Linked DNA regions of Homo sapiens: region 2 is linked to region 1. Evidence: fine-mapped expression QTL. Tissue or cell type: whole blood. Region 1 holds a variant in brackets; the other region holds the start of a gene. All regions are shown on one strand. Distances are between the middles of the regions.

Region 1 (6,079 bases):
ATGGAGATGTGAGTGAAAGGAGTCAGCATGCTATGTCCTGTTTCCCTGCTCATCCCAGACTCCATGGGCAGCTATTTGAATGTATAATACAATTGCAGAATTTTCCCCAAACACTGTGTCTCTCCTTGGCGTCTCAGACTCTTCTCTCCCTGGCTTCTCCAAGATGAAAGCCTTTTCTAAGATCTCTTGCTCTCTTTTCTTTCTACTCCCAAATGTAGCTCCAACTTTGAGTTGCAGTCCTTCTTCCCTTTCCTCCTTCTATTCTCTTTGCCATCTGAAGTTTTCTGCTGGGATGCCCCTGTGGCATTTCAAACCCATTGCCTAATCAGTACATTTGCCTGGCCCAAGACCACCTCCTTCCTGCCACTGAAAACTGAAATCTTGACTTCATCTGGGGCTTCACCTTCCACATCATTGTCTTCCACCCACTTCCAATTCATCACTGAGAATGCACACTCAGCTTTTCTTGTAACCTGGCTCACTTCTTTTCCTCTCCTGCCGCTGCCCTAATTTTAGGCCATATCCCCATTTTTCTAGACTATCACAAAAGCTTTCTACACCATATCCTGTTCCCAACATCCAGTTATTCTATAAAATAATTAATTTCCAAAATGCTGCTCCTATCCTGTCACTCCTGCCCTGCCTTCCCTGAGCAAACACTGACAGGGGGGTTCTCCCTTGCTTCCTTGCTTCTTTCTACAATTAAACAAAGAAGCAGCAGGACAACATGGCCCTTCAGCTGCCATCCAGCATAAACTTCTGACACTCCATATCAGGGCTATCTAAAAAACCTTCCATGATGATGGAGATGTTGTATATCTGTGCTCTCCAATTCAGTAGCCACTGGCTATATATGGCTATTGAACACCTGAAATGTGGCTAATACAACCGAGGGACTTAATTTTTCATTCTACTTAATCATAATTAATTTAAATGTAAGTAGCTACTTCTGGCTACTAGGTTCCATATTGAGCAGCACAGTTAACATCCACTAATTTGGTACCACTTTTTGGACACAACATTCCTGGCCTTCCACTTCTGTCCTAATAATTTACTTTATTTGTCCTACACACTAGTGAGGAGCACTTACTAACCCCTTTCATTTTGATGTGTTGGATGTGCTGCCTTGTCTAGGAAGCCTTTCTGCTTCTCTTCTCCACCCTCTTGGAACAGAAGGGATGGCTAGATTTTCTGAGGTGCCATAGCACTTGCCTGCATGGTATTTCCATCCCATTTTGTATAGTGTTTATGTTTGTCTTCTTGTTAGTTTAGATTATAAATCCCTTAAAGGACAGAATGATGCATTTAATTCTAAAAGCTTTGTGCAAGTGCCTACCACGTACAAGGAGATGGGGAAATGAAGATTAAAAAAAGATGAGGTCCTGTGCTTCAAGAGATCACACACTTGAACAAACATATGTTAAATGAAGATGAAAATACTTACCGCAGAATACATGATGAGTTTTTTGTAGCTTGGTATCTGAGTTGCTCTCTTCATGTGATTGAGGATTTCATTGACCAGGACACCTTAAAGAAGATGAATCAATAACCAAACTGAACCAAACATAAGCTTCTATTTTAGTTCATTAGCTTTTTGTCACTTCATAGTTGCGGACTCTCCCTGCCATGACTTAAGAAGAGGGGCAAAGATCTAATTTTATTGAGCATCTGCTCTGTGCTAGGTAATGTGATTTACATACTTTTTTTTTTTTAAACTGAATCCTACGTCTCAACCCTCATTTTTAGGTAAGGAATCTTAAGTCCAAAGATATTAAGTGACTCACACAGCCAGGTAAGGAAAGCTGGATTGGCACACTAGGACTCTACCATACCGGGTTTTGTTAAAGCTCAGGTTAGGAGGCTGATAAGCTTGGAAGGAACTTCAGACAGCTTTTTCAGATCATAAAAGATAATTCTTAGCCCATGTTCTTCTCCAGAGCAGACCTGAAATGACAGCACAGCAGGTACTCCTCTATTTTCACCCCTCTTGCTTCTACTCTCTGGCAGTCAGACCTGTGGGAGGCCATGGGAGAAAGCAGCTCTCTGGATGTTTGTACAGATCATGGACTATTCTCTGTGGACCATTTCTCCAGGTTACCCTAGGTGTCACTATTGGGGGGACAGCCAGCATCTTTAGCTTTCATTTGAGTTTCTGTCTGTCTTCAGTAGAGGAAACTTTTGCTCTTCACACTTCACATCTGAACACCTAACTGCTGTTGCTCCTGAGGTGGTGAAAGACAGATATAGAGCTTACAGTATTTATCCTATTTCTAGGCACTGAGGGCTGTGGGGTACCTTGTGGTGCCAAAACAGATCCTGTTTTAAGGACATGTTGCTTCAGAGATGTCTGTAACTATCTGGTGTCTCTGTTGGTCTCTTTACCCTGCATCATGTGCTCTCTTGGCTGAGAATGACCAGTAGGGTGTGTTAGGGTGTGTGTGTGTGTGAGTTGTAATGAGCAGGGCATTGATATTAACAGATTGACTATAATCTCAGGTTCTGTAGTCCACTCAACAAACACACACTGAGCAGCTATGATGCGCCAGATACTGTGCTAGGAGAATCAGACCTGGTCCCTGCCCTCCAAAAACTCATAAAATAGTAAGAAGAGACAGGTCTGTACACCAGTAAGTATAAAAAAGGGTTAATTAAGGAGGTAGGTATCTGCTCTTTCTATAAGATACTGGAAATTCCTTGAGGATGAATAGGATAATCTGAATGTACATGTCTAACAGGTCTAAATCCCTCCATCTCAGAGAGGGTTGCCCTGTGGAATGCATTAGGGACTTTAGCTTGATTCACATGCCATGTTGGTGCTAAACTCTGTGGCCAAGCTTTTGGGAGCCATGACAGCCACCTGAAATCAGCAAGTTGCCCTTTGTCAACAAGTGCCTTTT[A/G]GTCAGGCTGCAGTTTTGGTCATGAATATATCAGTTCTTGGTTCTGGTATGATTACACCCTTATCCCAGGAGTGATTAGGGGTGACTATCATGATTATCCTCAGGCTCTGGCATATCAATATTCTGTTTTATAGGGGAAACTGAGGCTTGGAGAGGCTCAGAAACTTGATTAGATTATACAACTTGCAAGCAGAGAAGGAGGGCTTTAAATCTAGCATGTCCTGTGTCAAAACCTTTATTTGTAATCATTAGAACATGCTATCGTGGAAAGCTAGCTTCAAAGTTATCTGTTGTATCCTTTATTAAATCTTCGTAAACTAGACAAAAATATCATTGACCTGAAGACATAAACTTTGCTTCCTTCATTTCTAGTCTACAGCAGAGGTTGGCAAACTTTTCTGTAAAAGTCCAGAGAGTAAATGTCTTAGGCTTTGTGGGTTAAAAAATCTGTTGCAACTACTCAGCTCTGCGGTGGTAGCATGAAAGCAGCAATAGACAATGCATAAATGAATGAGTGTGGCTGTATTTCAATAAAACTTTATTTACAAAACCAGGTAGTGGGCTGGATTAGGCATACAGGCAGTAGTTTGCCAACCTCTGGCCTAGAGCAAGAAGAGCTCTCTTTTCACTGATATGACCAGCCATATGATCCTAAATTTGCCCCAGGGATTTTTTTGGTGTGTGTGTGTGTGTGTGTGTGTGTGTATGTGTGTGTGTCTTACTGAACAGTGTCACCCCTGAAGTTAAATGATGAAATAAAAATTCTAGACTGGGCACAGTAGTTCATGCCTATAATCCCAGAACTTTGGGAGGCCAAGGTGGAGGATCGCTTGAGCCCAGGAGTTCAAGACTAGCCTGGGCAACATAAGGAGACCCTGTCTTTGCAAAAAATTTAAAAAAAATTTAGCTGGGCATGGTGGTGCATGACTGTAGTCCCAGCTACTTGGGAGTCTGAGGTGGGAGGATCGCTTGAGCCTGGGAGGTCAAGGCTACAGTGAGCCGTGATCATGCTGCTGCACTCCAGCCTGGAGGACAGAATGAGACCCTGTCTCAAAAACAGACACAAAAACAAACAAAAAATACAAAGAAACAAAAACAAAACAAACTAACAAAAAAACTAGCAAAGGTCAGAAGATGGCCCTGATGTGTCCACATTACTCTTTGTCACCTAGACAATGTGTGTTTTCTGTGCAGGAATGTGTGCAGCTGTTTCATCATTCAATAAACATGTAGTTGACAAATCTCTCTTGCCCAGCCAGATCTGAATAATAGTCTGAGCTTTTGTTTTGGCAGAACCACACAGGAGAAATTTTCCTGCTTAACAATGGCGCTGGACTTTTTCCAGAAAGCAGGACAGCTGGTTTCATACAAGTGCCAGCCTTTAGAATCCAAGATCAGAGAACAACTCAGAGAAGGACTCTTATAGACAGTCTAGTTTAATCTCCTCATAGGTAGTGAAACAGAGATCCAGAGAGGGGAAGTGGCTTCTCCCAAATGTAATCTTCTAGTAGGCAAGGGAAATAAAAGAGGAAACATGAGGAAAGTGGAGCAACTCCATTTCTTATTCATACATACACATCCCTACATCTACTATTAGACTACTGTCAACTCCTGTCTGGTATAAAGCATGTTGGGATTTTATTCAAATGCAGATCCTGATTCAACTCGTTTGGGAGTGGGGCCTGTGTTTCTAGCCAGGTGGTAGTTGATGCCGATGCTGAAAAGTAGACTGCACTTTGAGTTGTGAGGGACTAGGTGCCTGAATCCACCATAACTAGGTTGGGGGAAATAAATCAAGAGTCCCGCTTCCACCATTTGATGGGGCTTGCAACTGAGTCACACTGCTGGCACCTGGTGGGCCAGAAATGAGGCTGAGTGCTTATGTGGCTTCCAAGGCACCCTCTACATCTTTTGTTGTTAAGCACTTAAGATTGAGCTTCTTCCTGGGTTCTGCCCATAGACACAGTCTGTATCCCGCCTGGTAATTTTTTCCAACACTCCAGCTTCCATCTAAGACTCCTCTCTGGAGACTCTCCCTTCCTCAAGGCTGGATCTTGTTGCTCATGTGTTTAATGTGAAGTAAGGACTTGCACATTTCTATCAAGTCTGTCTCTGTGCCATGCAATCAGGATTTTTGTAATAGCAGATCTACAACAACCTCATGTCGTTAATGGCCACTGTCCTAAATTTTTTGCCCCAACCTACTTTATTCATCTCACATGAATTTGCTCCTGACCATCCTGGTTTCATACCTCATTCCCCTGGTTACAGCTTGCCTCACTCTTTATACCTGGTGTGCAGCCCTGCTTTTCTAGCTATAATTGATTCCTTTTCTGGTCAGTGATTTGAATTTTTTCCCTAGTTAAGTAGCCTCAGTGAACAACCTCCCAGTCTGGTCCAGCCCTAATATGCTTTGCCTCTATGCATTCTCTTGGGATTTTGATGGACTTGTCCTGATGCTGTGGTGAATAGTGTCTGTCAATGGCTGGAATCATGATGTGATTGTATTAATCTCAAAATGCCTTGAATATGTGTGTCAGCCTGACTTGGACCATCTCCTGTGGCTTGGACTTTCCTCATTACGTCAACCTGACATGATGAACTTTCTCTTCTTCTTTATCCCTAGTTTTAATACCTATGATAACCACATCTAAGTCTGACACCTCATTTGGTATCTTGGCCTGCCCATCCAGTTTCTCTCATAAGCCCCAACATCTGTCCTTGTCTTTGCTGGTCCTGACTTTTTTCTTCCATCCACTTATCCTGATTACAAGAATCCAGCATCCTCTTGCCTGGGTCTGCCTTCATATGACAGGGTGTCCTGTGCTACGAAGAGCCAGTTCTAACCAAGAAGAGGCATCACTGATAAATAAATCTCAACAGCTTTCAATGTCAATGAAAAATTTCAAGCTGTGTTATAAACTTGTCAATTGCAACATATTTTAACAGCACATAATTGGTCTGAAAAATATAACAATTAGCCTGAAAAATATATTTTATCGGCTTTCACAATGACTACCACTCAGGGTTTCAGGAAAACAGGCCACTTTTGTCATACCTCCCACTTGAAAAATTCATCATATAGGCCACAAGACACAATTGATTTTCATGTGGCTCAGACACAGATCCTTGATTTTTGATCTGGAGGGGATGGAAAGGATCATTTAGCTTTAGCTTTCATT
Region 2 (6,079 bases), 31 kb after region 1:
AGAGTGTATACCTTGTAAGTCATCATTCCTTTCTTAACACCGGTGAAATGAGATGGAATTTTTCTGTCTTGGATCAGCTGAACTTGTGGGTTTTCTCTGGGTTAGGGGAGACAGGATGCTTTAAAATGACATTTTTCTATTTCTGGATGATATGGTGCATGAAATAACTTAAAAAACTCAAGTGGGTGTGTGTGGGAAATGAGTGGCTATGCAGATGAAACAAGATTGCATGGGTGATAGTCTTTGAAGCTGGTTGATGAGGACATCCAGATTCACCATATTTACGATTCTTTCCATATAAAGTTAAAAATGTCAGTTCTCTCAGTGTTTTCTACAGGACATTGGGGAAAAAAAGAGGGAGGTGAATGCTGTAATCAAAATTTTGAAAACAGAGTTTGGAAAACACTAGATCCTTTCCTTGAAAGCCACAGTGCGTATTAGCATGTTAAAGACTTAGGATTACTGCATTAAAGAGACCTTTTAAACACAGTTTAACCCAGTTCTATTCCCAAAGCTAACTTGACTATTGAAACTGATTTTTTCCCCATGTACACCTGTTAACAACTTGTCAAACTAGCATTTCATGGGTCACAGGCACTTCAGTTAGTCCGAGAACAAGAACCAAGGACAGTTTCCTCCTCTTTCTGCTGAGAACAGCTTTTCAGAATTGGGGAGGATTTATTTTTCTCGGATCACAGAGGAAAAGCAAGGGAACCACCTGCTGATTCAGAGTCAAGCTAATCCAGCAAACCTTACAGGGGGATCTCAGACTAGCTCCATGTGCTGGGTTATATACACACAGCAGGAAAAGACCATGTCTAGTGATAAAGGGAAAGGCATCCGGGGTCAGAGAGCCTGGGTTCAAATTCTGTCTCCACCATTCCATCTGTGTGACCATGGGCAAGATGCTTAACCTTTTTGTGCCTCAATTTCTTCATCTATAAAATAGGAATAATAAGTTTTACAAAACTTTATAGAATGGTTGCCAGATTTGGCAAATAAACATACAGGATGCCCAAATATTGCATGGGACTAAAAAATTATTTGCTATTTATCTGAAGTTCAAATTCAAATGGTCATCCCATATTTTATTTAACGACCTTATTTTAGAGGATTGTTGACAGGCTTATGTGATACAATTCATATTGAACACTCAGAACAGTGCCTTGTAAGCACTCAATTGCAGTAAGTACTTGCAGTAAGCACTCAATTGACTATTGGTTATTATCATTAATATTACCACTTTAGTTATGGGCATCTTTTAAAACAATTCTGGTTCTCCTAATAATTTTCTAAGAGTTATCTCATTTGTATAAATTAACCACTTATAGTCAAATATTCTCTTTAGTCAATAAAAATAAGAAACTGATGTTTATTGGCTTAAGTACTTAGATGGACGTTGTTTTATAAGGGCCAAGAAAGATGTATTAAATGGCCCTTCATCTACCATTAATGGAAGGAAATCATGGTAGGAAAAAATAGTTAACACTGGCTTTGTGCAATATTTGTTAATTTTTTTAGTTCTAAGAGAGCTAGCTTTGTATTTTGGCTTTCCTCAGGAAAGAATTAACTTGCAGTCCCTGAATATAGGAAACCCACAACAATTTGGTAGTCAAAGGAAGTTAGCCTGGGCTAACTTGGGTAAAACATGGAGGAGGGAATACATCATGTACAGTGAGCTTGGAGTAACTTGGATTTCTCAGAGGACTGCCACTCAACCAGCTTGTCACAGGTTTACAGTATTACAAGCACGGCAGATGCAGTACAATTTCTACAGTCCCTAAACTTGCCTCATGCACATGTTAGCAAGAAAACTACTGATAGAAGTACAAGCCTAGCTCACATGGGTTTCCCTAAAGAAGGCACACAGTATTATATATTTTTTTTCTGCACAGAAGTCTGACAGCTGGTGAATCATTTGTAAATAAATTGATAGTTTGTTTCACTGGGTTTTCTGTCATTGTTGACTCATGACCTAGTAAGGATTTACTGGACTATAAGAATAATGATTCAAATAAGCACATGGGTATCATATTTTCTGTAGAAAGTAAAGAGCTTTGAATATCCCATGCTGAAAAAAAAAAAAGCCTGAACTTTAATTTTTAAGGAAACAGTGACTTTCCTTCAAATTATAAAAATAATTTTTGAGTATTCTTGACAGAAAGAAAATTTACCTACTTATCAGCCCACTTTCACTATCTCAAATAAAAAAATGTAGGGAAGAGAAAGAAAACGAGAGAGGAAAGGCAAGAAGCAGCTTAGAGGCTTAGAGGCAGAGAAAGAGTGAAACAGAAGGAAAAAAAGATACAGAAACAGAAAATCAGACTCTTAGGTAACATGATGAATCCCCTTCACTTTGCAAACCCTCTTTCCATCTATTTTCAAACAATGTCAACAGTATATTTTCTTTTCTTGATATTATGCATCAGCCACCCCCCACCTTTTTTCATAACTGGTCACATGTGCCAATGATTTTAATCGTCAACTAAATCTATATATCAGAAAATCATCCTAAAATTCCAAATTTAGATTCACTTTTATGCTTCAAGGTTGTTTACAAATAGTTGTTCTAATTTCCTGATAAACAAAGGTGAAAGGACTACTTAATTCAGAAAATGACTGTTTTTTGGCTTGCAAACAAATAATGATTAAATTGAATGAAGCCAGCTCTTGGTACATAAACAGCGCCAGCTGTGGTTTCTTCTGGACTGGTGTGGCTGTCAAAAGGAATCTGAATTCAAGGCAGTTGTAAAGTAAGTAAATAAATAACATCAGCAAAAGCAAATAAAAAGCAACCCCTAAAAAAACAGCGACCAAAAAATATTTTTGTTAGGACACGTTAGGTCTTCATTAAGAGGAACTTGCAAAACTTGATTATTCACTTTCTGAGTTTGAACAGAGCCTGGTCTCTGGGAAACAATCCAAGGATAAGATGAAACCTGACGCTTGCCTTATCAGACTTTGCTGGGAACACAGTTTTAAGGAAAAAGCAATGAGAAAAGTCTACTTACCAAAGTCACAAACTTCAACTCCTTGGCTAGTACACTTCGGTCTAGCCAGAAAAAAAGCAGAAACAAGAAGCCAAGGCTAAGGCTTGCTGCCCTGGCCAGGAGGAGGGGTGCAGCTCTCATGTTGAGGAGAGCTGTTTCTGGCAGGAGTTAGGAGGAACTGCTACCACTTCAAAAGCCTGTAGAGGGGAAGCTATTTAATTAAGGGATTGAAAGGGAAGGAGGAGCCACACTCATAAGTAGTAAAGTTTCCAGGAAGCGTAGGGCAGGTTTGGTATGTAAATAATGTCATGTAAATTTTGAGCTGAGAGAGATCACAGTTTCCCCATTTAAGTTAGGACACCAAGGCCAAGAGCGGGGAAAGCTGTTGATCAAGGTCACAGAGCATGTTAGCAGACATTTCTATCCTTGTTTTCAGTTTACTTTTATCTTTGTTTTTTGTTTTTTTTTTTTTGAGACAGAGTCTTGCTCTGTCATCCAGGCTGGAGCACAGTGGCACAATCTCAGCTCACTGCAAACTCCGCCTCCCAGGTTCAAGCAATTCTCCTGCTTCAGTCTTCCTGAGTAGCTGGGATTACAGGCGTGCACCACCACACCCGGCGAATTTTTGTATTTTTAGTAGAGACGGGGTTTCACCATGTTGGTTAGGCTGGTCTCCAACTCCTAACCGCATGATCCGCCTGCCTTGGCCTCCCAAAGTGCTGAGATTACAGGCATGAGCCACTGTGCCAAGCCAGTTTACTTTTATCTTTTCTTTAGATAGGGTATGATACAGCGTTGGATTTGTGGCTGTCACTTGGGAAAGGGATCTACCCTGACTTTAGAAACCTTAGACCAGTGATTCTTAATCTGTTGGGAGTCCAAAGTTATAGGACTGAAATCTGGAAGGAAATACAGGTGTTGACATATTTGGGGCCTATTTCCATGCCAAACATGGCTACTTTTTCAAAAACTCTCATGTAGCCTATAGAGGTATTTTTAAATTAAAGAAGAAAAGTAACAGCAAGTTTATTTTGAAAAATTTTAGGCTGGGCGTGGTGGCTCATGTCTGTAATCCCAGCACTTTGGGAGGCCGAGGTGGGCAGATCACTTGAGGTCAGGAGTTAAGACCAGCCTGGCCAGCATGGTGAAACCCCATCTCTACTAAAAATACAAAAAAAAAAAATTAGCCTGGCGTGGTGGCACATGCCTATAGTCCCAGCTACCTGGGAGGCGAGGCAGGAGAGTCACTTGAACCCAGGAGGTGGAGGTTGCAGTGAGCCGAGATTGTGCCACTGCACTCCAGCCTGAGTGACAGAGCAAGACTCCATCTCAAAACACAGCAAAACAAACAAACAACAACAAAAAACAAACAAAAGAAAAATTTTAGTCACACCTTAAGACAATTGGACATTACCTGTGGTATCTCAAAATTAGATTGGAGGTCCCTTTCCAAACCTGACAGAGTTTTTTAAGAAAGCAAAAAGCCCAAACCTACAATTCTATATTATTAGTCATCAACTTTGGCCATAAGCCTTAAATTTTGAGTGAGTTACATCCTTGCCTCTCCAGCTATGATCTCACTGGGGACACTACAAAAGGCGATCCAGACTGATGGAACTTTGCTTTCCATTTTCCCCAACCTGTCAGTTCCATCATAGGCTAAAACAATACAAACTTGAGGTGCACATTGAGATTTTGCAAGATTTGGGGGCAGAGCTGCCTGTCATGATATTTCTATCATAATGGCAGAGGGAGAACAATGGTTTACCCGCAACCTGTTTCCTGGTACATTGCGCTTACCTGTGGCAGGAGGATTGTGTTCTTATGTGATCATAGGATGCCCTGGAATGTGGTATATGGGAGAACTGTTCCTTCTTCCGGCAGTAGGAAACATGCGCAAATAGGCTGGGCATGGTGGCTCACGCCTGTAATCCCACCACTTTGGGAGGCTGAGGTGGGCAGATCACTTGAGATCAGGAGTTCGAGACCAGCCTGGTCAATGTGGTGAAACCCCATATCTACTAAAAATACAAAAATTAGCCAGGTGTGGTGGTGGGAGCCTGTAATCCCAGCTACCTGGGAGGCTGGGGCAGGAGAATCACTTGAATCCGGGAGGCTGAGGTTGCAGTGAGCTGAGATCACACCACTGCACTCTAGCCTGGGCAATAGAGTGAGACTCTGTCCCCCCTCCAAAAAAAAAAAAAAATGTGCAAATAATAAATGCATGTGTGATTAGGATTAACCATTCAAGGGAACTTGCAACTTTCTCTTTGCCATCACATTCTCGACCTGCCAGTCTACACTGTCAATTTTAATGAGTAAGATTTTGAGGAAATGGGTGCAAGAAAAAGGAAATAAAAATTGGGAGGTTTTCCAGTCCAGGGCATACATGAAGTTGATACATTAATCCCTGCTGTGTGCACCAGGCAATCTGAGAAAGGAAGCTCCAGCACCTATGTACCATTCACAGGCAAATTTCTGAACCACATTTCTTAAATTGTGCCAGATGTCTGCTTCTATTGAATGCCTTATTTTCTCAGCTATCTGCCTGGGTCCTTGTTCTATCTCCTTCCTTGTCTCACCCTTGGACTGGTGCTTGGAACTATTTCAGCAATAGCCTTAGACCTTCCTGATAATGAAGACTGATTTTATAATCTACCTATACCATGTTGCACTGGTTGGATAAACCCTCTTTCTGACCTAGACCCTAATTTTTTCTGTGGTACCGCCTGTGGGGTCCTTTTAGCTCTTCAAGTGAGAAGGGCAACAACAACAAAGTTTTCTTTGAAAACCAGAAAAAGCCTGCTTGAATTGAATACATCTCAACTCAAACTTAATCCAAGTTGAATTAAATGGTTTATACTTCTATCTCAATCATCATCCTCACTTCCACTTTGATCATTCAGTTATAAGGGGAGAAGAAGTATTCAAAGTCATAAATGTAGAGTCTTGAAAAACCTGAACACCATGAAATGGAGTGTAAAAGATCCTCAACTCAGATGAAACCTGTTTTAGAATGTTCTGTGGCACCTTGAACTTTGAACTCAATAAGGTCTTTGCAAAGACATAAGGGTCATCTGGGATAAATA

Evidence for each region. PIP is the estimated chance that this variant, and not a neighbour inherited with it, causes the effect.
Region 2: ACP3 starts here. The variant in region 1 is fine-mapped to the expression of ACP3 in whole blood (INTERVAL, PIP 0.95).

Annotation. Positions count from the first base shown.
Region 1 is chr3:132,345,368-132,351,446 of GRCh38, reverse strand. It overlaps ACP3 (acid phosphatase 3), which reads right to left. Exons shown (of 10, transcript NM_001099.5): 8 at 1,445-1,527. Among named protein-coding and RNA genes, the nearest start is that of ACP3, 31 kb to the right of the region's middle. The variant A/G (reference allele first, on the strand shown) is at 2,898.
Region 2 is chr3:132,314,509-132,320,587 of GRCh38, reverse strand. ACP3 (acid phosphatase 3) reads right to left here and starts at 3,181. Exons shown (of 10, transcript NM_001099.5): 1 at 3,012-3,181. The coding sequence starts at 3,131.